Homo sapiens: one gene and its partners. The protein of the gene in region 2 interacts with the protein of the main gene of each other region in a pairwise test. Each region holds a gene or a part of one and is shown on either strand. Other genes may lie near its edges.

Region 1 (7,025 bases), on a different chromosome or scaffold from region 2:
TGTGAAATGGAGATGATGACATTTACATCATGGGCTATAGGATGACTATTGAAATTTACACACATTGTAACACATGCTGGGCACTGCAGTGTTTGCTTTATGAACATTTTCTCATTAATTTTCACAACAGTTCGGTGAAGTGGGAACTATTAATGTATTGATGTGGAAATTGGAGCTCCAAGAAATTAAGAGACTTCTCCAAGGTCACACATCTGGCAGGTTGGTTCAAGAGGCTGGATTTAAACTTCAGGAGCCTGATTCCAGACCTGGAGACTTTTAGTTGCTTGAACACAGCATGTGAAGCCCTCAGGTGCAGGCAAACAGTGCAGACCAGTGAGGCTCAGCTGCTGCTGCTGTGATTATTGTTTGAATTATTATTTTTCCCCATTCTTGTAATGTCCTAGGACATTACTGTCTGCTCCTCACAGTCAGATGGGATTATCATTGTCTTGTATCATTTTCCAATGGTTTCCAACATAGGAGGCTTTTCTGTCCCACATCTTTGTATTCTGTCAGCGGCACCATCTGCCTCCACAGAGCCCAGTGGTTCTCAGGAGTTGCTCAGTGGTTCAGGGTCTCTGGACCCTTTGCCAGTAACCAAGAAGTGAGCTGTAATTTCACCTAATAGCTCCACAGCCACCTGTCACCTCTGTTTGACTTCCCAGGCATTAGTATCATTTGAAGACGTGGTTGTGACCTTCACTGGAGAGGAATGGGGGCACCTGGACCTGGCCCAGAGGACCCTGTACCAGGAGGTGATGCTGGAGACCTGCAGGCTCCTGGTCTCACTGGGTAAGACCTCATTACCCTCCCATGTAGGGGACCCACAGCCTCTTTGAATCCACCCTTTCTAGGCATGGCTGGTCCAGGAGCCTCAGAACCCAACCTTCCCTGATCCCTGCAGCCTCAGCACGTTGTGGTCTGACCTCCTCTTGCTGGGTTTCCCTGTGTCTCAATCAAAGATTGTTATGTAAGAAACACAGTCCTCCTCAACACTTTTATCCCACTGTCTAGCACAGCTGGCCTCAGTCTGACATCTTTATCCCAGACTGCCACAAGAGGTAATTGGCCCAGCTTGGTTGAGTCAAATGTCCTCACAGCCCAGTTAGCAGGACCTGTGGATAATGGGAGGTTCTACAAGCAGCGGGTGATTGACACAGACACTAAGAAGGTGTTTGTTATCAGTGCTGCTTATATCTTTTTCAGCAACACAGTCTCAGCTGAAAGGTCTCTTTGGCTCCTAGCACCTGCACAGTTAACCCTTACTTCCTAAGGCCTGTGCCTTGCTCCTCTGCTGCTACAGGAGATGATTATGATTATGGAAAGGGAGCACAGACACATTCTCAAATGGCATGGATGTATGCTATCTGAGAAAGCTGTTCTTTTTTTCTTTTCTCTTTCCTGTCTCTTGAATGTTGAGTGTTGGCTTAGGGCTGAATCTTTAACACTCCCATAGCTGTTGGTGAATTTCCTCCTCAGTAGAAAGAGTAGCCTCAAACTCCTAGCCTCAAGCAGGCAGCAGGAACTTGCTGGGACCTGTTATCATTTTGATTTTGCCATTTTTATAGTAACCTGTCACAGCAAGGTAACTAATATGTGTAAAGTGCTTAGAATAGAGCTGGAAACATAGCAAGTGTTCTGCATGTGTTTGTTACATTTAACAAATTAATAAATACCAAATGCTCTCCCACCTAAACCTTTAATGGACAGTTTGCCCAGAAGTTGGTCTGAGTAGATATGAATGGAGGCCCAAAGTCTCACTTATTCCAGTTGTTCAAATGGTTACCATCGACAGGGCTCTCCCAGTCCTGCGTCCTCACGAGGGATGAGTCATTAATGAAGTAAACGTGGTGTTATTTTATGACAACTGTGATTAGTTGTCGAAAGGAGATGTATGGGGAACAGCATTCCAGGAGGAGGGACCAACATGAGCAGCATCCCTGTGGGAGCAGGGTGCTTGATTCCTTAACAGAGATGAAGGCAGGCCTGATTCCCCTTTAATGCTGCTCATCACCCAGCTCAGTGCCAAGCATATGGCAGAACATTTGCTGAGTGTGCATGTGGCATGTAAGTGTGCGTAATCCTATGGTGAACATTTGCTAAGTGACAGCTGGATGCGTGCCAGGACAAGATTTTCCAGTTGATGCTTCTGGGTCCTGGTGCCTCAGTCATTGACTTCTCTCCAGAGTCTTCTGTCTTAGCCTTCACAGTTGGCAAAATGTGTGTGGCTGCATGTGGAAGAAGACCACCTCCTGCCAGTTTCACCCTGAAAATAATTTCTTACTTTACCTAATGAGAAGCCCTGAGGTGCTGCTGACTCCTGGCTTGGTCAGTGCCAATCCATGCTAACCCAGTTCTCTGTCTGCTTTCTCTCCTTGGTCTAGGGCCCTGGCCAGTATCCTTGTGGGGCAGTAGGCCTCCATGTTCAGCTTCAGTCACTGGCCTGCCTCACACAACTGACTATCAATAGATGCCATTCATCAGGCGATTTAGTCCTGTGTTTTTCAACCATCATGGGCACCAAAATCACCTGGGGAGCTTTAAAAACTACCAGCACTCAGTCCTTCTGCTCAGAGATTTGGTTTAATTTGTTCTGTTTTTGGAACTGGGTGTTGCTAGGTAGTTTTGATGCACAGGGTGGTTGAATCCTACTGACTTAGGTTAATTAGGGAATACTTTTGGTGAGGCAGGGGAGGGCCCTTTCTGGGGTTTCATTGCAGTATGTTAAATATATGTACTCCTTTACACCTCAGACTTTTCTTTTTGTCTTTCCCTGTACACCATACTCCATTTGTTTCTCCATGCACAGGGCATCCTGTTCCCAAACCAGAGCTGATCTATCTACTGGAACATGGACAGGAACTGTGGACAGTGAAGAGAGGCCTCTCCCAAAGCACCTGCGCAGGTTGGTGACTGAGAGTCTGGCAGCGGGTATCAGGGCAGCCTGCAGACCACCCAGGCATCACTGTGTCTGAAATGCCATGGGCAGCTATTTTGTGGTCTTGAGCAGTCATGGAGCCCTTGACCCCATGGTCCCCCGTCTTCCCACTTCTGTCACACACTCTTTGCCTTTATTCAGGTTGGAATATGTTAGGTAGGAGACAGATTCTAGGCTTTAATGATTTGCCACTCACTAGCCTCATGACTCTGGAGAGGTTGTGTGACGTCACTGTGCCTTTGGTATATAAGTTAGGCTGAGTTAATGACCTTCTCTGAAAAATAAACTCCAAAATCATGTGACTCAACAGATTAAGTTTCGTTTTGTTTTGTTTTTTTATCCATGCCATAGCCCAATGTGGGTCAGCAGGAAAGCTGTGTACCCTGTATTTATTTATGGATCACATGCATTCTGTTGTCAATATGCAGCTTTAAGGTTGCCCCGGCCAAGAGGAATGGGAGAGAAGGGCAGTAGTCACTTCCATTAACATTTCATCCACAAGAACTGGGTATTAGGCTACATGTTGTATCAGGCTGGGAAATGTGGTTTAGCTTTTTTATACCCAAGGAGAAGAGCCTATGGGTATAGTGAACATATACTTATCTGATACACTTAGCCTACATTTGAAAGATAGTGATGATAGTTTCTGCATGACTGGGTTGTTTGGGAATGTGATCACATAGCAGGAAACTGCCTAGCACACTGCCTGACCCGGAGTGGCTCAACAGAAGTTACTTGTAAGTAATATTAATGTAGTGTTAGTCATAAGGAATAGTGATAGCTCAGACATTCTTCTGCATTCAGAAGACAGTCCTTTCTTTTCCTGCAGATTACTATTTCAAACTACACTCTGCATCCCACCATTTTTCACCTTCTCCAGCCCGTCATTTATTGATCCATCCATTCATCTTTTCATTTATGTATCAGATACGCAGAAGCACTCCCTAGCCCTGTTGTTTTCTGGCCCTCCTGTCTTCTAAAAACCTCAAGGTGATGATTGCCTTTGTCAGTCCCACATCTGGGCTGCCAGAGGAAGCTGGAGCCATCAAGCAGGTGGATTTGTGACACTGTAGATTCACCATCTCACCCCTCTAGTGTCCTTCTTGCCTGCTCAGTCAGCCTTCACCCCTCTCCCCTATTCCACATCTTCACTTGAATGTCTCAGAGGCACCTCACACTCATCATGCCTAAAAGGACCTCATGATCACCCCCATTTTCAGCTAATGCCTCTTTCAATGAGTGGAGAAGGCTAAAAACAAACGTGGACAACCCCTCAACACCTCCATCTCCCTCATACCCAATATCCAGCCATCCCCGAATCTTGACCATTTCACATCACTCATGTCTCCTGAATCCTCACCTTCACTAGTTTCCATCAGCTCCAGCATTAGTACTCTAGGCCAAGTGATCATCTCTTGCCTGCATAATGCTACCAGATTCCTCGCTGTTTTCCCCCATGTGCTCTGTGCATCTGGTCAGCCCTGTGTGTTATATCTGCATCCACTCACATGTTCCATGTATCACCGCCTCCCTTGCCACTGATGTCAGAGCATCTGACCTACTTTATGAATAAAGCCTACACACTTGATTTTCTTGCTTTTTGACACTTACTGATTCATGTTCATCTGACTTATCCTGCAGCTTCCTTCTCACTTCTGTGGAAGAGTTATCATCCTGGCCATGGCTAATTTCTCCAGCAGAATCTAGATTACACTTTCTGCCTTCTCAGGTGTATTAGCCATCTACTATTAATATGTAACAATATTACCACAAACCCTGCAGCTGAAAACATCACTTATTTATTATCTCCCACCTATGGATTGGGAGTCCAGGCACAGCTTAGCTGGGTCCTCTCAGGCGTGTCATAGGCAGCTCATAGCTCATCATCACCATCAGCTCACTTCTTCAAATCAAGCCACTGTGTGAGACTCCAGCAAGACGGATGTTCCAGTCTTATAAAATTACATATATTTTATCATGTACATTCCATCATCTTTGCCATATTCTATACTTTAGAAGCAAATCGAGGTCCTGCCAACATTTTAACAGGGGAACTACAAAAGGGTGTGAACACTATGACTTGGGGATCATGAGAAGCCATACGTGAATCTCTCAGCTGCATCAGGGAACATGCTTCTTCACTTACTTCCTACCTCTTCTATATTTTCATCCCCTCTCTACTCAACATTAAAAAAAAATGATGATGTTTCTGATACCTGGGGGAGACTTTTTTTTTTTTAGTGCTCTTACGTCTCCAGCAGCATCTACATATTGTTGACTCTATTTCACCTGAACAGCCAAGCTTGTTGGAGAAGTCTTCTCATTCTTTGAAGAGACATCTACACAAGACTTTCCTTTATTTATTTTTTCCCTTATTTTTGTACTGAGGTGCAATTTATACATAATAAGTGTACAAATCATAAAGTTTCATTTCTATAAAGTTTTATATATGTACAAGTCAGAGAAACCATCTCACAGTTCAAGAAATACAGTGTTTTCAGCACTTAACAGGCTCCTTGTGCTCATTCTTTGTCAGTATCCCCTTCTATAAAAGTAGTCAGTGTTTATACTCTATATCACCATACATTAGTTTTGAAGGCATATAAATAGAACCCCCTAGTACATACTCTGTCCTGACTTCTTTTGATAATCTTTATGACTCAGATTCATTCATGTGGTTGCATATAGTTGGAGTTAGTTCATTACCATCATTGAATGAATAGACTACATATACCCATTTTCCTATTGATGGACATTTGACTTGGTCTCCATTTTTGGAATATTATGAAGACTACTCTTATGAATATTCTTGATTGTATTTTTTGTTGGATATAAACCCATATTTCTGTTGGGAATATACATACAAGTGGACTGGCCAGATCAAGTGTGGGCATATGATTAGCTTTAATCGAAACCACCAGTTTCAGAGTAACTACACCATTTCACATTTCCACTAGCCACGTATGAGAGTCTTCATTGTTCCATGTACGCCTGAGCAGTTGGTGTCTTTCCCTTTACTCTTTGATGCCTGGTAGTGGTGTTTCTCAGCACCACAGCACTTAAAGTGTTCTTGCCCAGGTCACTGTTGCCATCCTGATTGCTAAATTCAACTATAATGATAATAGACAGTGGTCTACAGTTTACCAAACATTTATTCTTTGTCACACGAATGAACTTTTGTTTGGTTTTTGGGTTTTTTTTGAGACAGGATCTCACTCTGTCGCCTAGGCTAGTGTGCAGTGGCACAATCTCGGCTCACTGCAGCCTCTGCCTCCTGGGTTCAAGTGATTCTCGTGCCTCAGCCTCCTGAGTAACTGGAATTACAGGCATGCACCACCACACCTGGCTGAATTTTTTGTATTTTTAGTAGAGATAGGGTTTTGCTGTGTTGGCCAGGCTGGTAACTCCTGGCCTCAAGTGATCTTCCTGCCTCAGCCTCCCAAAGTGCTGGGATTACAGGTGTGAGCCCCCACACCCAGCCACAAATCAATATTTTGTATGCTTTTTCTCCTAACAACTTGTAGGCAGGAACTGAGAGTATCCCAGTTTTTCAGATGAGGAAAGTGAATCTTAGAAAAGTGTGTTAGTCTGCTCTGGCTGCTGTAATAAAATACTATAGACTGCGTGGCTTATATAGCAGAAATGTGTTTTCTCTCAGGTCTAGAGGCCGCAAGTCTAAGGTCAGGGTACCAGCATTGTTGGGTTCTGATAAGGGCTGTCTTCTCAGCTTGCAGATGGCCGCCTTCTCACTTTGTGCTCACATGGCCTTCCCTCAGTGCCTTCACTTCTTACAAGAAGTTTACCATGTTGGCCAGGCTGGTCTTGAACTCCCGACCTTCAGTGATCCGCCTGTCTTGGCCTTCCAAAGTGCTGGGATTACAGGCATGAGCCACCATGCCTGGCCCCCCTCTGACTTTCATAATTGTCCCTAGGTGTGCAGAATTAGAAAAATTATAAATAATGATTTATGACACATTGTCATCATTAGTCAATGCGTGTCCTGGTTTTTTGTTTTATTTTCTTTCATTGCATTTTATTAATATATTTATTCATCCTCCTTTAAAAAGATTGTAATGAACACCTACAA
Region 2 (6,935 bases):
CAGGTTCAAGCGGTTCTCAAGCTTCACCCACCTGAGTAGCTGGGATTACAGGCACATGCCATCACATTCAGCTAATTTTTCTATATTTTTAGTAGAGACGGGGTTTCACCATGTTGGCCAGGCTAGTCTTGGACTCCTGGCCTCAAGTGATCTACCCGCCCCAGGTCTCCCAAAGTGCTGAGATTACAGGTGTGAGCCACTGTGCCCAGCCAAGGTCAGGATACTTTCGTAACCATGATATCAGCCATTTATTTAGTACATCCCTAAAGAATTGAGGATCTGGGGATTTTAAGCATGTTAATGCAGTCTTTTTTACATTATTAACTGAAGAAAAATGGCTACCCTTTAAAGAGATATATATATATATTTATATATAAATATATATATTATATATAAATATAAATATAAATATATATATATTTAATGGCAGGCCAATATATATATATTTTTTGAGACAGAGTCTCGCTCTGTTGCCCAGGCTGGAGTGTAGTGGCGCGATCTCGGCTCACTGCAAGCTCCGCCTCCCGGGTTCATGCCATTCTCCTGCCTCAGCCTCCCAAGTAGCTGGGACTACAGGCGTCCACCACTACACCCAGCTAATTTTTTGGATTTTTAGTAGAGACGGGTTTTCACCGTGTTAGCCAGGATGGTCTCGATCTCCTGACCTCGTGATCCGCCTGCCTCGGCTTCCCAAAGTGCTGGGATTACAGGCATGAGCCACTGCGCCTGGCCTAAAGATTTTTTAAGATTAGGAAACAAAAAGTCTTCAGAGGGAGCCAAATTGGGACTGTAAGGTGATGTCTACTGATTTTCCACTGAAACTCTTGCAAAATTGCCCTTGTTTGATGAGAGAAATGAGCAGGAACTTTATCATGGTGGAAAGGTCTCTCTGATGAAGGTTTCCTGGGCATTTTTCCACTAAAGCTTTGGCTAATCTTCTCAAAACACTCTCGTAATAAGTACGTTATTATTCTTTAGCCCTCCAGAAAGCAAAATGCCTAGAACAACCCACAAAATGGTTGCCATGATTTTTGCTCTTGACTGGTTCACTTTGCTTTGACTGGACTACTTCCATCTCTTGGTAGCCACCGCTTTGTCTTCAGGATTGTACTGGTAAAGCGAAGTTTCATTCTTGGTTACAATTCTTCAAAAAAAAAAAAAGCTTCAGGATCTTGATCCCACTTGTTTAAAATGTGTGAAATTTTGAAAGCTCTGTTCTTGTCAGCAGCTGACCTGGGCACAATGGTTTTGCCACCCATTGGGTGGAAAGTTAGCTCAACTTTAATTTTTCAGTAAGGATTGTGTAGGCCAAATCTGTTGAGATATCTGTGGTGCTGGCTATTGTTTCTGCTGTTAATCATTGATCCTTTTCAATTAGCACATGAACAAGATTACTTTTTTTCCTCACAAATTGATGTGGAGGGTCTGCTGCTGTGGGCTTCATCTTCAACATCATCATGTTTCTTCTTAAAATGAATTATCCATTTGTAAACTGCTGACTTCTTTTGGGGCTTTGTCCTTTTACACTTTTATAAAGCGTCAATGATTCCACCATTTTTCCACCCAGGCTTCACCATAAATTTAGTATTTTGTATTGCTTCAATTTTGTAGAATATGTGTTCTGATAGGGACTCTCTTCAAACTGATTTCTTATCTTTCTTGGTGCTTCAAGCTAGATCCTGTTCAGACATGTTATAGCAAGTTAGAACAAATTTATTTTGGTGCAAACATTTATTTTATTTTTTTAGAGACAGGTGTCTCACTGTGCTGCCCAGGCTGGTCTCGAACTTCTGGGCTCAAGTGATCTGTCTACCTCAGCTTCCCAGAGTGCTGGGATTACAGGTATGGGCCACCATGCTTGGCCCTGTGCAAAAAAAAAATTGGAAATCCATGCATAGTTTTTTCATAATATGCATATTATTCATAATATTATTCATAATAGGCATATGTAATATGTTACCTTTCCCACAAACCCCATTAATCCCTTCTCTGATCTTTATTGATTTGGGTACCTCTTACAATCCATCTTGCATTGTTCCTGTTTATGTCCATCGCCCTCAAAAATATAAACTGGGCCTCCTAGGCTCACTTTGTTTTCACCTTGAGGCATGTCTTACACATTATTTTTGTGTTCACACCCACAAATCCAATCCTAAAAGCACTGAAATTGGAAAGGATTACATTGCGTGCCGCATGGAGGCTGGTGCCTGTAATCCCAGGACTTTGTGGGGGGCTGAGGTGGGAAGATTGCCTGAAGTCAGGAGTTCTTTTTTGTTTTGTTTTGTTTGTTTTTAGACGGAGTCTCACTCTGTCGCCCAGGTTAGAGTGCAGTGGTGCTCACTGCAACCTCCGCCTCCCGGGTTCGAGCGATTCTCCTGCCTCAGCCTCCGGAGTAGCTAGGATTACAGGTGCCCACCATCATGCCTGGCTAATTTTTGTACTTTTAGTAGAGACAGGGTTTCACCATGTTGGCCAGGCTGGTCTCGAAGTCCTGGCCTCAGGTGATTTGCCCGCCTCGGCTTCCCAAAGTGCTGCAGCGCCTGGCCGAAGTCAGGAGTTCTTGACCAGCCTGGGCAACACAGTAGACCCCATCTCCTAAAGGAAAGGATTACCTTGTACATTATACAGCAAAAGTTCTTAAAATTGTTTTTAAAATGTATCTCTTCCTTTAAGTTTCCACTCCCTATGTAAGTTGCCTATCCCTCTTTCCCTCCTTTTTGGGCTAGTATCGTCTCCAGCTTGCTTCCAAGTCCGCTAGGGAATACACACGCGCGCACACACACATACACGTGTGTGTTTACGTACTAAAAATATATAAACATTAATAATGCAAGATGGGGCCGGGCGCTGTGTCTCACGCCTGTAATCCCAGCACTTTGGGAGGCCGAGGCGGGCGGATCACGAGGTCAGGAGTTCGAGACCAGCCTGGCCAACATGGTGAAACCCCGTCTCTACTAAAAATACAAAAATTAGTCGGGCGTGGTGGCAGGCGCCTGTAATCCCAGCTACTAGGGAGGCTGAGGCAGGAGAATTGCTTAAACCTGGGAGGCGGAGGTTGCAGTGAGCCGAGATCGCGCCACTGCACTCCAGCCTGGGCAACAAGAGCGAAACTCCGTCTCAAAAACAAACAAACAAACAAACAAACAAAAACCAAGATGGATTGTAAGAGGTATATATATACACATAGGACTCCATTTCTTGGGGGACCTGGAGGGGAGAAAGTCACACCCATACACACACGTACACGCATGTATACAAAAATGAATATATGCTCAGATATATACAATATATAAATGGGCAAATATAAAATCCCCTTTGTGCCAACGAATCCATTCATTCATTCATCAAATATTTGAGCGTCCACTTTGCCTAGAACCAAGTTATCTGTTGGGATGAGCAAGGCATAAGAGGTTCTAGCTCTCATAGAACTTAGAATTCTACTGGAGGAAGATGAGAACAAATACAAAATGTAAACAGTGGAAGTTCTGTAAAAACAACACAGAGCTTTGTGAGAGTGATGCTTAGAATGCTCCTGATGTTCCATTGGGTGTTCGAGCAGGGGGAATGGACTCGGAGGTGAACTATGAGCCGAGATTCATTTTATAAACGGGAACACAGACACATGGACACTTGAAGGGCCTTGGTGGCCAGAAAACTGAAGGCAGGTTCCCATCCGTCTTGGCACCACTCTCCCGAATAGCAGTTTCAGGGAACTGCACAAGCCAAAACCAGCCGGTCGCAGAGTCCAGGAGCGCCTGCGCAAGAGGACGCCTGCGCAAGAGGACGCCGTCAGCTTGGCGTCAGCGCGCCGGGCTCTGGCCCGCCCCCTGTGACACCAGCCCCGCCCCACCCCGCCCCGCATACCCGTGCGCTGCCGCGCATGCTCCGAGCCCCGCCCCCGTGCGTCACAGAATGGCCTCGGACACCCAGGCAGTCCCTGACGTGTCGGGGAGGAGCCGGGCGCGGAGGTACGCTGAGTGGAGCTCGGGGCTGCGTAGGGGAGCTGAGCCGAGCGGCTGGGCGGGCCTGGCCGGGCCGGCGGAGGGGAGACGTCGGTTGAGCGGCGGCGAACATGCGCTTTTGACACATTGGAGGTGAGCCTGCAGCGCGGGGCCGCTCCCTAAGGGGCTGCGCTGGGCCGGCGGCGCCGAGGCCTGCCCTTGGGGAGCCTTCCCGGCCCGGGGCCGTGTCTGAGGCTCCGCCGGGGCGGGCCGGGCCGGGTTCCGGGGCGGCCAGCCTGGGGGCAACTGTTCCAACCGCTCTAACTGTCCCCTCCCTTCCCTGGTCCGATGTGTGGCCCCCCAGGGGCGCCTGCAAGGGAACGATTCCGGTGGCCTCCGGAAGATGTGCCCCGTTCCGGGTAGGGTGAGGGCTGGCGGTGACGGAGGCCGGGACGTGGCACCGTGGGCTGGGGCGCTGGCGGCGCAAGGAGTGGCCCAGTCGGAGGTGGCAGCGGCGCGCCCAGCCCGCCTCCTCCTACCCCCTCTTCGAAATTCCTTCATTTGCGAGGGTGGCTTGGAGCGGGGTTGCATTTTGATCTCTCAGTGCCTCTCTCCCATGGGGGGCGAGAGCGCGAGCAGCCCACGTTGGGCTCGGATTGGCATTCTCCTGACTCCCGCCCGGAACTGCTAATCATCCTCCCCCTGGAGTTCGGCAAAGTGTCACCAACGGGCTCGGGTTACTTGTGCTCGACTCTTTTCTTGCTGTAAGCCATGAGATGACCCTTTAAGTTTTGCAAAGGAGGTGAGAGTTCTGTCACCACTGATTATTACCTTCTATTTACGTAGCACCTTTACACGTTTCAGAGCACTCTTCTTCCTATCTTTTTCTAACCGCATCACCTTGTGGTTGCAACTGATTATGTTATCGCCATTTCGATGGGTAAATGGAGCTGGGATGGGGGTAATTATTTATACTTAGGTTCAACCAACTGGTGAGTGGTTTAGCTTGGATCATAATTTACATTTCTAGGCTCGGAGTTCTGGTTTCTTTTCGTGGGATTTTTATACCCTTCTCAGCTACAAAACAAGGCAGAAAATGTGACTTGCCAAAGATATGCCAGAAGCTGGTAGATTACTTACTCAATTATTTTTGAGAAAACTCACCTAGGATAAAAACGGCTGCTCAGTCATGAGAAAAATCTTCCTGTGAAGCTTGTTCAGGAGTTGCTGGTTAATTGCTTTGCTAAATCGTGAAGTTGATGGGCACAGTGCAGCGTTAAGTCATGGGCTGAAGAGAAGTAAAGGGAAACCAAGTGAAGTATTTCTTCTGAATTATTATTAAAATTATTGTTATTTAAAATTAGAGTGCGTGAGAAACAAAACCTTTGGCCAGCCCTGGTTAGAGGTTGACTTGATCCAGATAGAAGTTGCTAAATCTTCTGAAGCTGTAGTTCTTTTGATTTTTTTAAATTAAATAAATTGAAGTTGGATAAAGAGCTTAAAATAAGTAGGAACCTTAGTAAAACTTAGATCTTGCTTTCATGACATCTGCAAAACAACTTATTTTTGTTTTCATTTTAAACCATGCTGGGATAAATTTGGTTACTAAAGCTTAAAATTACTTCTGACGTAAGTTTCTGAGCACTCCATAAAGTAAAAAAGAAGTCTGATAGAATCAAAGAGAGACCGTGTTTATGATCAACTTTGAAGAGTTAAAAATTCTGTAAATGTCACCTTTGAGAGTAGTAGAATTTCAGTAAAAAGGCATATATTGCCAACAGTGAGTTCTGAAAGAACTCTTCTAACGTCAGTCCATTTTAGAACTGTTAACCAGAAACAATATCATTGAAAATAGATTTTCTTACCATTGTACAAAGAATAATTTCCTTGTAAATAAAAGGCATTTTGGACAGGCTGTTTTAAACTCAAATGAGTTGATTGTTGCTAGATTTCTGAAGGTCATACACAGTATGATAATGCTTTACGTAAAAATTGTCATGCTTTTGAGACTGTGTCCGTATTGAGATCTGGTATTAAAGAAAGATGGGGTGGGGGCGGGCAGAGAATAATAATTTTTTTTTTCTTTGATGGAGTCTCCCTCTGTTGCCCAGGCTGGAGTGCAGTGGCACAATCTCGGCTCACTGCAACCTCCACCTCCTGGATTCAAGCGATTCTCCTGCCTCAGCCTCCTGAGTAGCTGGGATTACAGGTGCGCACCACGATGCCCTGCTAATTTTTGTATATTTAGTAGAGACAGGGTTTCACCATGTTGGTCAGGCTGGTCTCGAACTCCTCACCTCGTGATCCGCCTGCCTCAGCCTCACAAAGTGCTGGGATTACAGGCGTGAGCCACCGTGCCCTGCCAATAATACATAATTATCTATCTTCATTCTAGCTTCAGAAAATTGTGGATGTACCATTAGAGCATTGTTTTAGCAGTATGTTTTCTATATTAGCTAACTTTCTATAGCCTGAATATCTCCAGTTACATAGTTTGAAATAAGTGAACACATCCTCCCAGTGTAACTTGAAGCAAACTGAACAGACTGTATAACAGCCCCTGAAACTGTCGTTTGAGTATCTGCAGTGGTAGCAAATTTTATTATTTGTAAATAATCTGATTTTTATTTTTATTTTTTTGGAGGCAGGGTCTCATTTTGTCACCCAGGCTGGAGTGCAGTGGAGTGATTACAGCTTACTGCAGCCTCAACTTCCTGGACTCAAGCGATCCTCCCACCACAGTCTCACGAGTAGCTGGGACCACAGGTGCATGCCACCACACCCAGCTCATTTTTGTATTTTTGTTAGAGATGGGGTTTCAGCATGTTGTCCAGGCTGGCCTTGAAGTTCCAGGCTCAACTGACATTCCCACCTCAGCCTTCCAAGTGCTGGGATTAATATGCGCGAGCCACTGTGCCTGGCCAGAATCTGATTTTTAAAAAGAGTAAATCTGATGGGTAAAAGTAGGGCAATAGAGCTGGATAATACCAGTTA
Region 3 (7,783 bases), on a different chromosome or scaffold from region 2:
CAGGCACCTGTCATCCCAGCTACTTGGGAAGCTGAGGCAGGAGAATCGCTTGAACCCGGGAGGTGGAAGTTGCTGTGAGCCAAGATCGCACCCCTGCAGTCCGGCCTGGGGAACAAGAGCAAAACTCCGTCTTAAAAACAAAAACAAAAACAAACAAACAAAAAACACAAACTGGAGGTAGAGGTTGTAGTGAGCCAAGATTGTGCCACTGCACTCCAGCCTGGGTGACACAGAGAGACCATCTTCACAACATTGGGGTAGACAAACATTTCTTTCATGGATCCCTAAAAGCACTTTTAAAAAATTACAAATTCAGGCCGGATGCAGTGGCTCACGCCTGTAATCCCAGCACTTTGGGAGGCCGAGGTGGGCGGATCACCTGAGGTACGGAGTTTGAGACCAGCCTGGCCAACATGGAGAAACCCCATCTCTACTAAAAATACAAAATTAGCCAGGCGTGGTGGCACTTGCCTGTCATCCCAGCTGCTCAGGAGGCTGGGGCAGGAGATTCACTTGAACCCAGGAGGCAGAAGTTGCGGCGAGCCGATATCGCGCCATTGCACTCCAGCCTGGGCAACAAAAGCAAAGCTCCGTCTCAAAAAAAAAAAAAAATCACAAATTGGATTTATCAGAATTAAAAATTTTTGTTTACCAAGGCAGTTAAGAAAAAAAAAAAAGGAGACGGGGTGCAGTGGCTCACGCCTGTAATCCCAGCACTTTGGGAGGCTAAGGCAGGGGGATTGCTTGAGGCCAGGAGTTTGAGACCAGCCTGGGCAACATAGGGAGACCTCTGTCTCTATTGTTTAAATTTTTTTTTCTAAAAAGAGACACAAAGGTAAGCCACAGACTAAGAGAAAATATTCCCAATACATGTATCTGACAAAGGACTTATATAAAGAATTGTAACTCCTACAAATCAATAAAAAAGAGAAATAAAATTTAAACTGGGCAAAATATTAGAACAGACACTTCAACCAAAGTTATACAACGGTCTATAAAAACATGAAAAGGCACACTGAGCACATGGGTCATGGGTGGTGTTTTCCAATTAGAACACCTTGCTGAGTTCCTCTAGCAAGTAGCAATGACCACAGTGATAAAAATAACAGCTCCCGGCCATTCGCGGTGGTTCACGCCTGTAATCCCAGCACTTGGGGAGGCCGAGGCAGGTGGATCACCTGAGGTCAGAAGTTCGAGACCAGCCTGGCCAACATGGTGAAACCCCATCTCTACTACAAATGCAAAAAATTAGCCAGGCTACTTGGGAGGCTGAAGCAGGAGAACTGCTTGAACCCGGGAGGCGGAGGTTGCAGTGAGCCGAGATTATGCCACTGCACTTCAGCCTGGGAGACAGAGCGAGACGATCTCAAAAAAAACAAAAACAAAAACAAAAAAAAAACACCCTCTCCCCTCAGCTCAACAGCTGTGTTTGCACAACCTGGACTGGGCTTCCCAGCCTGGAAAGCAGAGTCAGGGAGAACCGTGAGATAGGCCAGGAAAGGGGCTAAAGCCAGATTCCTCAAGGCCTCCTGAGCCGTGGTTTCATGTGTAATGCAACAAAGTTTAATACGGGAGAACAGAAGGATATTGTCATAGCTACTTTTTTTCCCCTAGGCAAATTAACACAGGATTTTTTTTTCTCTGAGGCAGGTCCTTGCTCTGTCACCCAGGCTGGAATGCAGTAGTGCAATCACAGCTCACTGCAGCCTCGACCTCCTGGGCTCAAGTGATCCTCCCACCTCAGTCTCCCCAGTAGCTGGGACCAAAAGCGCATGTGCCAACATGCCCTGCAATTGTTTTAAGTTTTTTGCAGAAACGGGGTCTCACTATGTTGCCAAGACTGATCTCAAACTCCTGGCCTCAAGAGATCCTCTGGCCTCAGCCTCCCCAAGTGCTGGGGTTACAGGCGTCAGCCACAGCATCCGGCCTAAGCTACCTTTTTTTTTTTTTTTTTTTTAATAAGATGATGTCTCGCTCTGTCGCCCAGGCTGGAGTGCAGTGGCGCGATCTCTGCTCACTGCAACCTCTGCCTCTTGGGTTCAAACGATTCTCTTGCCTCAGCCTCCCCAGAGTAACTGGGATTACAGGCGTGCACCACCACACCCGGCTAATTTTTGTATTTTTTGTAGAGACAAGGTTTCAACATGCTGACCAAGCTGGTCTAGAACTCCTGGACTCAAGTGATCCACCTGCCTCGGCCTCCCAAGAGCTGAGATTACAGGCGGGAGCCACCTTGCCTGGCTAAGCTACATTTTATAAAAGATCCTCTGTGATGAACAAATGAGAAAGCAGCAAAACAGGATGGGGGTGGGGAGAAGACAGGGAGGCGTTCAGGTGAGAGAGGAAGACGGCCAGGATTGGGACTTACAGGGTGGGAATGGCAAGGAGGCAAATGGTTCAGTTATGGAGCTAACGCACCAGTGACTGTGTGGCTGGGCGTGGGCAGGAAAGGAGAAGAAGCGAATCTCGGGTTTCTGCCTCCTCCCCTTCGCGGTGGAATGCCTGGGAGGACCAGAGGGTGGGGTGTGGAGGTTGCAGGAGCTCAGCCTGGGGCCGGGGAGCTTTGGGTGTTATGAATCAAGTCTAAGCGCTCGGGTCTCATCGGAGCGATAGGGCTGGAGACACAGGTGTGGAAAGTGTCTATGAGGGATAACTAAGGTCACGATCGCGGACGGGGTCGGCCAGGAAGAAACCAGCTTCAAGAGGATACGCAACCGGGTCCTGACAAACCTGCAAGTGTAAGGAGCGAGGAGAGAAGAGGAGGCCGAGCCGGAAGAAGCTGAAGAACAGCCCCCGAATAGCCGAGGGCACGGGCAGCCTCCCCGGTCTGTCCCAGCAGCCGCGACGCTGGGTCTCACAGCCCTGGGGCGGCCGCAGAATTAGAAGGTTTGACAGCCCACGACCCAGGGACGGAGGGGCGGCGGGGGACACGGGCGCACTCACCACAGGGGCGTCCTCCACTAGGATGCTGCATCCACTACGCCGCGCCGGTAGCCCAGACTTTTACAAACTTCCCGAGCGGAAGTTGTTATCCGAAAGCTTCCGGCCCCTCTAGGAGCCCACGTCTCGGTGGTGCGCGCTGGCCTTCCAGGCCGTCCAGGCCGCCCGCCTCGCCCCGCACCGCTTGTGGTTCCGCCGCAGCCGGCAGGCCCCGCCCCGGTCACAGCCAAGCGCCACGACGCCCGGCTGATTTTTTTGTAATTTTAGTAGAGACGGGGGTTTCATCATGTTGGTCAGGCTGGTTTTGAACTCCTGACCTCAGGTGATCCGCCTGACTTGGCCTCCCAAAGTGCTGGGGTTACAGGCGTGAACCACCGATCCCGGCCCTCATAACCTAAAGTCGGCCTAAAGGTTTATCCTACAAAGTGAACTGTAACCTAACTGGAGGTGTGAACAGACTGTCACTTGCTCTCCTGCCAGTCACCCAGTTCCAGCCAATCAAGGGTGTAGGGTCCAGCCCTGCGGGGCTAAGCGGGTGTTGTCCCCGTGTGCGGAGATGAGAGATTGTAATAAATAAAGACACAAGACAAAGAGATAAAGAGAAAACAGCTGGGCCCGGGCGACCACTACCATCAAGACGCAGAGACCGGTAGTGGCCCCAAACGGCTGGGCGCGCTGATATTTATTGCATACAAGACAAGGGGCCAGGGTAAGGAGGGTGAATCTTCTAAGTGATTGACAAGGTGAAGCAAGTCACATGATTACAGGACAGGGGGCCCTTCCCTCTTAGGTAGCGGAAGCAGAGAGAGAAGGCAGCATAAGTTAGCATTAATCAAAGACTTTAAGACTTTCACTATTTCTTCTACCGCTATCGACTACGAACTTCAAAGAGGAACCAGGAGTACAGGAGGAACACGAAAGTGGACAAGGAGCGTGAACATTGAAGCACCACAGGGAGGGGTTTAGGCCTCCGGATGACTGCGGCCAGGCCTGGGTAATATCCAACCTCCCACAAGAAGCTGGTGGAGCAGAGTGTTCCCTGACTCCTCCAAGGAAAGGAGACTCCCTTTCGCAGTCTACTAAGCAACGGGTGACTTCCCAGACACTGGCGTTAGGGCTTGACCAAGGAGCCCTCAAGCAGCCCTGATGTGGGAGTGACAGAAGGCTCACCTCTTGCCTTCTAGGTCACTTCTCACCATGTCCCTTCAGCACCCGACCCTATATCCGCCGGTTATTCCTAGGTTATATTAGTAATGCAACAAAGAGTAATGGTAAAAGCTAATGATTAATAATGTTTATAATAATGATTGATAATTGTTCATGGTCATCTCTATATCTAATTTGTATTATGACTATTCTTATTCTAACTATTTTCTTTATTATACTGAAACAGTTTGTGCCTTCAGTCTCTTGCCTAGGCACCTATGTAATACTCCACCCACACAAGGGTGGCCAACTGTTCAAACCTAGACACGCCTTTCTATAGATTCCAGGTCTTAGGTAATCACTTAACTTATTCAACCAATTGCCAATCAGAAAATCTTTGAATCCACCTATGACCTGAAAGCATCCAAAGTATAGCCAAGAAATATATTTAAAAGTAAAATAGGCCGGGCACGGTGGCTCCCGCCTGTAATCTCAGCACTTTGGGAGGCCGAGGCGGGTGGATCACGAGGTCAGGAGATCGAGACCATCCTGGCTAACATGGTGAAACCCGTCTCTACTAAAAATACAACAAATTAGCCGGGCATGGTGGCGGGCGCCTGTAGTCCCAGCTACTCGGGAGGCTGAGGCAGGAGAACGGTGTGAAACCCAGAGGCGGAGCTTGCAGTGAGCCGAGATCGCGCCACTCCATTCCAGCCTGGGCGACAGAGTGAGACTCCGTCTCAAAAAAAAAAAAAAAAAAAGAGTAAAATATTTTGATTTCCTTTATCTGTCATGTGACGTTATGCTAGAGTCAGGTTGGAAACTAAGCCAATTATATAGGGTTAAATAAAACCTATCTGATGACATTTTATGGTTTGTAGGGCAGACTCCCCAGGCCCTTTAGATAAGAACTTGAGCAAGAGAGAAAAAGATCAGTTTAGTCCTCACTAGTAAAGGAGTGATAGCGACAGGAGGCAGGCAGCCAAATGCCCAGCCAAATGGGGGCAGGTCCCCAGTGAAACCTCCACCTCGACGCTGAAAACAGCTTAAAGCCTGAAAGCCAAGCTGCAAGTCGAATCCTCAGACCGGATTGAGAGCCTGTCTTCCTGTCTGGCGCACTTTCCTCTGATTGGTCCCACCCTTCACCTATTTTACATATACCTACCCTTTTCTAATTGGCTTTCTACACTGTCATGCCCACCTTTCAGTGGTGCCTTTGCTTTAACCTTTTTTGCATTACTCACAAACCAATCAGCACGCCCTCCCCATTCTGAGTCCATAACATGGGGAACTTTCCTGCCTTCATGTAGGGGGACCACGCCATGTCCCCTCTCCACTGAAAGCTGCCCCGTCACCCAGTGAAATTCCCCGCCTTGCTCACTCTTCGATTGTCAGAGCCTCCTCATTCTTCTTGGCCGTGGACAAGCATTCGGGAACTCGGGGGAGTTGACGGGCTGTCTCCTGCAGCAGGTAGTGTGTCAAGCGAGGCCCTGGCGGGGCGTCGCTGGCCGGAGGTCCCTGGCTTGCAGAATGACTGAGAACAACATCCTATGTCAATAGGAATGTCTTCAAAATTGTTAGTTACATATAATTTAATACTTGTTGATTTGCTGTTACTTATGTTTTTGGTTTTGAGCCTCTGGAATCGGGGCTGGACAGGTGGCCATGGTGAGGTCTGGGGACAAGTTCTCAGTGCCTCGACCAGCAGCTCCCAAGCAGAATCCAGCCCCATGTGGTCCCCTTTCGCCAGTTTTGCCTCCTGGCTATTCTGGGAGAGGTTGGATCCTCCAGGCATTGCCTTCACAGCTCTGTCTTCTGTCCTGAGCTCTAACCTAGGATGTAACTTCGGGCCTCAGACAGCCTTGACAGCCTCCCTGGGTGCCACATGGCTACTTGAGACCCAGCAGGCCTGGGAAAGACTGTAGGGAGGGCACCTGTGTCATAGCTTCATGCAGGGAGCCGAAGGCCCGTGGGACGTGACCAACTCAGCATTCCGCTGGAGGCTCTATGATCAAACAGCAAACTGTTTACCATGAATGCAGGATGTGGGTGAACTCACACTGCCCTGCCACCAAAAGGTTTGCTGAGGGCCTCGCTCCCTGGCTCTGGGCTCCTTGAAGTTATCTATTGAGAAATACTCTATTGTCCAAAGGATGCAGCCTGTTCAAGGCCGACTGACAATTACCCGACAATCACCCCCCTTTTCTCACTATCTCTTTTGCCTAATAGATACGGAGGGCTGTGTAAAGCTCAGGGCCCTTGTCCACTAGAGGCAAGGTGCCCCCTGACGCCCTCTTCCAAATATACTCTTTTGTCTCTTGTCTTTATTCCCGAGTTCGCCCCCTTTGTTCAGTCCCCTTAGGTCCGTGCAGGTTACAAGTGGCGCCCCGATCAGCGATAGAATCGGGTGCTCAACACTTTCAAAACTGTTTTTTTTTTTCGGATGGAGTCTGACTCTGTTGCTCAGGCTGGAGTGCAGTGGTGCAATCTCGGCTCACTGCAAGCTCCACCTCCTGGGTTCAAGTGATTCTCCAGCCTCAGCCTCCCGAGTAGCTGGGACTACAGGGGCCCGCCACCATGCCCAGCTAATTTTTTGTATGTTTTGTAGAGACAGGGTTTCACCATGTTGGCTAAGCTGGTCTCGAACCCCTGACCTCAGTTGATCTGCCTGCCTTGGTCTCCCAAAGTGCTGGGATTACAGACGTGAGCCACTGTGCCCGGCCAAGACCCCATCTCTTAAAACATTGGGAAGAAAAAAATCTATAATATTATAAAAGCTGTATGGGCCAGGTGCGGTGGCTCATGCCTATAATCCCAGCACTTTGGGAGGCCGAGGCGGGCAGATCATAGGTCAGGAGTTCGAGGCCAGTCTGGCCAACAGGGTGAAACTCCATCTCTACTAAAAATACAAAAAATAGCCGGGCGTGGTGGTGCGTGCCTATAGTCCCAGCTACTCAGGAGGCTGAGGCAGAAGAATTGCTTGAACCCAGGAGGCAGAGGTTGCCGTGAGCTTGTAGCAGGACAAGATGCAGACAAAACTCTCAGACACCAAGTCAAAGAAGGAAGGAGTTTATTTGGCCGAGAGCATTGGCAAGACTCCTGTCTCAAGAGCCGAGCTCCCTGAGTGAGCAATTCCTGTCCCTTTTAAGAGCTCACAACTCTAAGGGGGTCCGCGTGAGAGGGTCGTGATCAATTGAGCAAGCAGGGGGTACGTGACTGGGGGCTGCATGCACTGGTAATCAGAACGGAACAGAACGGGACAGGGATTTTTACAATGTCTGGAATCTATAGGTAACACAACCGGTTAGGTCAGGGGTCAGTCTTTAACTACCAGGCCCAGGGTGCGGCGCCGGGCTGTCTACCTGTAGATTTCATTTCTGCCTTTTAGCTTTTACTTCTTCTTTCTTTGGAGGCAGAAATTGGGCATAAGAGGATATGAGGGGCAGTCTCCTCCCTTATTCCCCCTCTTTGAGACTCTCACTCATTTTATTAGTGGGAGTTCTCACCTTCTTCCTCACTAGCTATGTCTTCCTGCATGACAGAGCGATAGTGATTCATGAAGTACACTTGTGCTGAAGCATTCTTTTTTTTTTTTTTTTTTTTTTTTTTTTTGAGACGGAGTCTTGCTCTGTCGCCCAGGCTGGAGTGCAGGGGCGCGATCTCGGCTCACTGCAAGCTCCGCCTCCCGGGTTCACGC
Region 4 (7,025 bases), on a different chromosome or scaffold from region 2:
GGGAGGCTTATAATATCTACCACACACATGTTTGAAACGAGTTGTTGAAAAGAGTCAAGGAGTTTCCCCTTTTCTCTGAAATGATTTCTACTTCCTATGTGAATTTGGATGCCTTTAGATCTTATCATCTTGACCCTTCCCACCAACGGGTATACCTTGTCTATCAATTACCCATCCATCAGTCATCTATCTACCATCCACCCACCCATCCACAGAGACTCTCTTTTTGACCAAACTTTAGTCAGGCTCCCCTGAGCCCTCTTCTCAACTGGGCCTCAACCTTGGCCCGTAAGAACTGCAGCTTTCAACACAAACAATTTTGTCTGTGCTCCCACCCTCCAACGGATTTGAAAACACTGTAGCATGGTGTATTAGCCTGTTCTCACCTTGCTGATAAAGACATACCCAAGACTGGGTAATATATAAAGGAAAGAGGTTTAATTGACTCATATAGTTCAGCATGGCTGGGGAGGCCTCAGGAAACATAGAATCACGGTGGAAGGGGAAGCAAACACGTCCTTCTTCACATGGCAGCAGGAGAGAAAAATGAGCAAAAGGGGGAAAAACACCGTATAAAACCAGCAGATTTCATGAGAACTTACTGTCGCGAGAACAACATGAGGGTAGTTCCCCCATGATTAAATTACCTCCCACCTAGTCCCTCTCATGACACATGGGGATTATGGGAATTATAATTCATGATGACATTTGGGTGGGGACACAGCCAAACCATATAACATGGCATCTAGCAGCCTAAGGCCATGTGTCTGGGATCACCCAGCCTCACTTGCATTCCTACCTAGAAAAGCTCAAGGCTGCCCCAAAGAATTTATCTTTTGTTCTAGCCCACACAAATGATAATAGGCCCCTGACTTTCATTTTGTTAGATCGTTTATTAAAAACTTACAATTGTAATTCTTTCTCTGTGCCTTTGAGATATATGTGTATCTCCTACCACCTGGAGTGTCTTCCTCAGTGTCTGTGAGCCATTCCTTTGAAGTGTAATCATCAGGGAGGATAGGGCTCTGTCCTCTAGTCTCTGTAGATGGGTAGGAGCCTAACTTTGACAAGTGCCATTTAGCAGTCACAGATGGCCTAGTCTCATTGGCAAGCCCCCTTGCCTGATTGCTGTAATGTTCTGTGTCCTTGACCCTGCTTGAGCCCCCACACATTCTCATTTCTCCTCCCTACTTCCTTATTCTCCCTTTAAAACACCCAGTCACCTCTACCTGAATTGGAGTTGAGCTCAGTTCTATACTGAAGTCTCTTTCTCTCACTGCAGTTGTACTGGGTAAAATCTGTCTTTACTGCCTTTAACCAGTGTCTAGCTTTTTTTTTTTTTTTTAAACACCATCCAACAAAAAAGTTTGAGTGTCTCCATAGGCCAGGCACTTTTACATATTAGGTATAGAGCAGCAAATAAAACAGACAAAAACTGCATCCTTGAGGAACTTACAGTGTAATGGAATGAATCAGATGAGGTTAAGTACTTAATATATCAGGTATGGATACTGCTATGGAGAAAATAAATCAGAGATGGGGGAGCAGGAGTGGGTTATGGGGAATTGCTATTTCAAGTAGTGTGGTCAGGGAATGCCTCACTGAAAGGAGATGTTGAGCAGAGCCCTAAAGGAGATGGAAGAGTGAGCCACCTGACCAGAGTGCAGCTGGCATTTGTGGGGAGCACAGGGAGGCAGCTGCAGGCCGCAGTGGGGGAATCTCATGCTCATGGCCAGCTTTTCCTCATGACAGCAGCCCCATCCCCCACTCCAGCCACCTGAGGCTGCCCACGAACACTGGTGTTGTTCTTGGGGCCTTAGTGGTATGGTGGCTTGGAACTGAGGACCTCTCAGGGCATCGGAATCCAGCCTAGACCATACCTGAATAGGAGTAAGGAATGAGAGTGTATGTTTTCAATGATGGCTCCCACTGGTTTGTCATAGGAAAGAGGCTGGGGGCAAGCTCACTCCAGCCTGGATTCCCTGCAGTCACCCTGGGAACAAATGGAACTATGATGTATAAAAGATGTGGACAGTGGAAACCACACGGCTCTTTCTCGAGGAATGTCTTAATATCAGGAACCTAGAACAACTTTCTGATTTGAACTGAGCCTAGAGAGAATCCCCAGCTTAAAGGGAACTGGGGTTGGTTAGGGTTTGAGGAGGGGAAATTACTCAGTCATTGACCGAGGCTCCTGCATGCCCAGATGGCTGCTCAACATCTGCTAACCAGAACAACACACACACACACACCCCTGGCAACAGGCTGTCATGAATTTCTCCATGGAGAAGGTGAAGAAACCATTGGGGAGCAGCAGCCAGGGCCTGTCTGCTGGTTTTTAGTTACAGCCTTTCTATACTCATGGGGACAGGGGTATGGAACCAGGATGGGATAGCTGTTTCATTTTTTAAGCTGTTAGCTTGTAACCATTTTAAACTCTCAACAACCAAAACACAAATCTCTCATATAGAGGTTCCTTGGATTGTTTGCTGGTGGGTAGGGAGCATCACAGCAGCTTGAGTGAGCATATGCAGCTGGCATTGGGGAGGTGGCATTTATAGGAGTCTGGTGTTCCTGACTCTTCTCTGTGCCTGTCATGACTTCATGTGGTCTCTTACTTTGCAAGCTTCTCTCACGTGCCCTATTGTATTTGGAAAATGGGGAACTTAAGGTCATTCCTGGGTATTTGATACTCCTCTTTAGCTTTTGTAAGTGGGCCTTCTTCTAATTGGTTGTATATATTCTATATGTTGGTTGTATTACATATAACCAATAATTGATATATAGAAAGCTATTCTAAAATGTAATGTAACCAAGCACTTTTCAAGCTCTTATTAATTATAACCTTGTTTTGTGGTTATTTTCCTTGGATTTTCCAGATAGATGGTCATATCATCTGCTAAATAAGTAAATAAATCAATAAATTTAAAATACATGGTTAGATGAATGAATAGATAAAAAATGATTACTTTGGTCTCTTTATTTCTATTTTTTATTATCAGACTAGATAGAAGACGAGACTGTTTATCTGTTGAGAGATTTTAAAAACAAGATTATTGTATTTCAGCCAAATGTACTTCCCTTGTCCCAGAGAGGATAGGCTATATGATCTCTGAGGTCCTCTCCTTATTAGTCTTTTTACTCTGTTTACTGTAGACCCATTGTACCAGTATGTTCAGTTCCCATAGAAAAACAAAAGAGTGTTTACACACAGTCATTATAGATAAGCCAGCAGTGTGTGTGATTAGGGCCAAACCAGTATTGATGATGGCCTGATACTGACTTTAGAAAGTTTGACTCACCTTGCAGAAATGAAAAGCCAACATAATGCATTAGCGTCTATGAAGACTGTAATAAGGCAAATACATTTGTCCAGAAACAGGCTGATATTGATACACTGATTTTAAGTGCTTTTCCCCAAAAGTACAATAGAGAAAGCCAGGAATATATAGCCTTGGATTACAATAAATGATAATAAAACAGCAGAAGCAAATAACACTTAATAGGGAAGTTTATTTTCCACACTTCATCAGATTGCTACTGCAGAGTACTAGTCTAAAAATTTAATATGAACACTAGCTCTGTAAATACGGGAGAAGTAATCTCAAATCATCCTGAATTAATTATCTTTGTGCTAAGCTGTTTGACATTACTCATTGAAAATAGCTTCTCAAGACAGGCAGTATTTTTCTACACACAAATAATTGTGTTCTCAGGTTGGAAATGTTGCCACATATTAAGCCAAACACATTTTTTTGCTTCTAATTCTTATATTACTATCAGTTTATTTCAGGGAAAGTTAATTTGAGAATTGAAATCATGTAGCAGAATAATTTTGGTTGAAATTGATGTTTCTAAGCCTGATGCATTTTCCATTAGTGTTACATGGTATCATTGGAAGTTTGTACAGTGAACATGCCAAACATTAGGTTTAGTTTTCTGAAGACTCTAGCAAGTATTCTTTTTTTTTAAATCCACATTGTATTAGTTTAACTGGCAGGTAGTAATTAGTTTTATATTGAGTGAGCTAATTTGCCACTACTAGCAGATTTTGAAGTTATTTTAATATAAATACATTGTCCTCTACCCCCAAACTTTATACTGAAATTTTTCTGCTAAATTTTAGGATTATAATTTTGATAATGGCCCAGGATATTGGAATAAAATATAAATGTGAGTTAGCATTAATATCTCAGTTTAGAGAATAACAATAAAAGCAGGAATGTGACCTGCAGCCACATTTCTTCAGTATCGGGGGAAATTCAGCCCCCAATATTTGACGTGGGTCCTTTTCTATTTTCCCTAAGTATTGGCCGGTCTGAGAAATAAAGGGAAATAGTACAAAAGAGAGAAATTTTAGAGCTGGGTGTCTGGGGGAGACATCACATGTTGGCAGGTTCCGTGATGCCCCTCAAGCCGCAAAACCAGCAAGTTTTTATTAGTGATTTTCAAAAGGGGAGGGAGTGTACGAATAGTGTGTGGGTCACAGAGATCACATGCTTCACAAGGTAATAAAATATCACATGGCAAATGGAGGCAGGGTGAGATCACAGGACCGGGGTGAAATTAAAATCGCTAATGAAGTTTTGGGCATGCATTGTCATTGATAACATCTTATCAGGAGACAGGGTTTGAGAGCAGACAACTAGTCTGACCAAAATTTATTAGGCGGGAATTTCCTCGTCTTAATAAGCCTGGGAGCGCTACGGGAGACTGGGGCTTATTTCACCGCTTATCCACAACCGTAAAAGACAGACGTTCCCAAAGTGGCCATTTCAGAGACCTCCCCTTGGGAATGCATTCTCTTTCTCAGGGGTGTTCCTTGCTGAGAAAAAGAATTCAGCGATATTTCTCCTATTTGCTCTTGAAAGAAGAGAAATATGGCTCTGTTCTGCCAAGCCCACAGGCAGCCAGACTTTAAGGTTATCTCCCTTGTTCCCTCAACATTGCTGTTATCCTGTTCTTTTTTCAAGGTACCCAGATTTCATATTGTTTAAACAATTTGTGCAGTTAACACAATCATCACAGGGTCCTGAGGTGACATTCATCCTCAGCTTATGAAGATGACAGGATTAAGCAATTAAAGTAAAGACAGGCATAGGAAATCACAAGAGCATTGATTGGGGAAGTGATAAATGGCCATGAAATCTTCACAATTTATCTTCAGAGATTGCAGTAAAGACAGGTGTAAGAAATTATAAAATTATTAATTTGGGGAACTAATAAATGTCCATGAAATCTTTACAATTTATGTTCTTCTGCCATGGCTTCAGCCGGTCCCTCCGTTCGGGGTCCCTGACTTCCTGCAACACTCCAGGGTCAGCAGTAGAGAGAGGCTAGTTGAGCACTTGCCTCAGGTACAAAATTTAAGGGACACCAAGACACTTAGTAATACAAATAAATATTTTATGCATTTTAGAAAATCAAGATTAATGCAAAAAATCCATAATGAACAAAATATCAAAATTTTAAAGGAAGACAGGATCAGTATTACTGAGTTTTCCTTTTGTGTCAGGCTCCAGTTTGGTTTGTAATAGCACTGTTACTGATCCTATCTATAAAGTTTTAATATTTCGTTCATCATGGATTTTTTACATTAATTTTGATTTCCTAAAAATATTGCATTAATATATTATTTATCTTGGAACACATCTGAATTATTGGAGTAAAGACATTCTGAAAAGTCTCTCCTGCACAATAACAATGAAAGCACTGGCAAAAATATCAAAATAAACCATTTTAGAATGGTGGAAATTAACGAAGGGTTTATAACAATCTGAGGAATATTTATTCAAGAAAAAGGACTGAATCTCAGTAAGAACAGTGAACTTTGTCATTTTTAAACTTACCTTATTCCCATTCCTTCATCCGCAGCTCCATTGTAGCCTTCAAAACTAATAGCCTAAGTCAGGCACAGTGGCTCACACCTGTAATCCTAGCACTTAGAGAGGCTGAGACAGGTGGGTCACCTGAGGTCAGGAGTTTGAGACCAGCCTGGCCAACAAGGTGAAATGCTGTCTCTCCTAAAAGTACAAAAAAAAAAATTAGCCAGGCATGGTGGTGTGTGTATGTAATCTCAGCTACTTGGGAGGCTGAGGCAGGAGAATCGCTTGAACCCGGGAGGTGGAGGTTGCAGTGAGCTGAGATTGCGCCACTGAACTCCAGCCTGAATGACAGAGTAGGACTCCGTCTAAAAAAAAAAACAAACAATAACTAATAGCCTAGAAGCCACTGAAAGGGACAAAACAGGTTTAGAGCCCTCTAAGATCCCCAGTCTCAGAAAATTGTCACTATATGATTGCTCTAGAAGCTTCTTAAAAAACTCCATTCTCAAAGCTTGTTTTGCAGAGCCCTGTGGCATTTTTGGAAAACAATCAGCAGTAATTGTTTAACCTCTCAGCTGCCTGAGGCAGTGACACCAGTTGGGGTTAACAAGAGGTTAACCAAAAAACTTAAAAGGAAAAATTGGAAAAGGAGCTACCTATGGGGGCTTTAAAAACCTTTGATGTAGTCTTTGGAATCTAGAAGTCCCATGTCTGTATGTCCAGGAAATACTTAATAAGGCCTTAATCTGTCATCTCAGACTAACAATGAGGCTTTGCATAAGTAAAGTAGGAAGAGAAGACTAAGAGTTGTAAACTACCTGCTGGAGTGTTAAAAGCATGTACCCCACCCCCCAACACGCGTAATCCCTCAGCAAAGACAGAAATCTCTGTACCGTCATTAGCTGACCACTGAAGCTAGACTTCAGCAGCTGCACATGATAAACAAAGTAGACTTTACATAATTAGTCTGGGAAATAGCAATAGAAACAATAGTAGCAACAAATATAACAACAAACCTTTATGCAGAGTGGAATCTTATTTCTAGGTTGCCATATTTTTTTAAATCCAGTTTTCAACATAAAATTTCCACACACACAAGCAGTAGCATATGGGCCATAACAGGAAAAACAAAAGTATCCCTGAGAAAGTCCAGATACTGGACTTAGTAGACAAACATTTTAAATTAGCTATTATAAATGT

What was found.
Region 1: the proteins of NDEL1 (region 2) and ZNF599 interact in binary tests that used the Homo sapiens proteins (3 or more experiments, as listed by UniProt).
Region 3: the proteins of NDEL1 (region 2) and ZNF707 interact in binary tests that used the Homo sapiens proteins (3 or more experiments, as listed by UniProt).
Region 4: the proteins of NDEL1 (region 2) and MTUS2 interact in binary tests that used the Homo sapiens proteins (3 or more experiments, as listed by UniProt).

What each region holds. Positions count from the first base shown.
Region 1 is NC_000019.10:34,763,196-34,770,220, reverse strand, and holds part of ZNF599 (zinc finger protein 599), read left to right. Parts: intron 1-665; coding exon 666-792; intron 793-2,809; coding exon 2,810-2,905; intron 2,906-7,025. UniProt on the Homo sapiens protein: May be involved in transcriptional regulation.
Region 2 is NC_000017.11:8,431,952-8,438,886, forward strand, and holds the start of NDEL1 (nuclear distribution protein nudE-like 1), read left to right. Parts: upstream 1-3,932; 5' UTR 3,933-4,094; intron 4,095-6,935. UniProt on the Homo sapiens protein: Required for organization of the cellular microtubule array and microtubule anchoring at the centrosome. May regulate microtubule organization at least in part by targeting the microtubule severing protein KATNA1 to the centrosome.
Region 3 is NC_000008.11:143,679,703-143,687,485, reverse strand, and holds the start of ZNF707 (zinc finger protein 707), read right to left. Parts: upstream 3,008-7,783; 5' UTR 2,944-3,007; intron 570-2,943; exon of another isoform or gene 472-569; intron 106-471; exon of another isoform or gene 8-105; intron 1-7. UniProt on the Homo sapiens protein: May be involved in transcriptional regulation.
Region 4 is NC_000013.11:28,823,339-28,830,363, forward strand, and holds part of MTUS2 (microtubule-associated tumor suppressor candidate 2), read left to right. Parts: intron 1-7,025. UniProt on the Homo sapiens protein: Binds microtubules. Together with MAPRE1 may target the microtubule depolymerase KIF2C to the plus-end of microtubules. May regulate the dynamics of microtubules at their growing distal tip.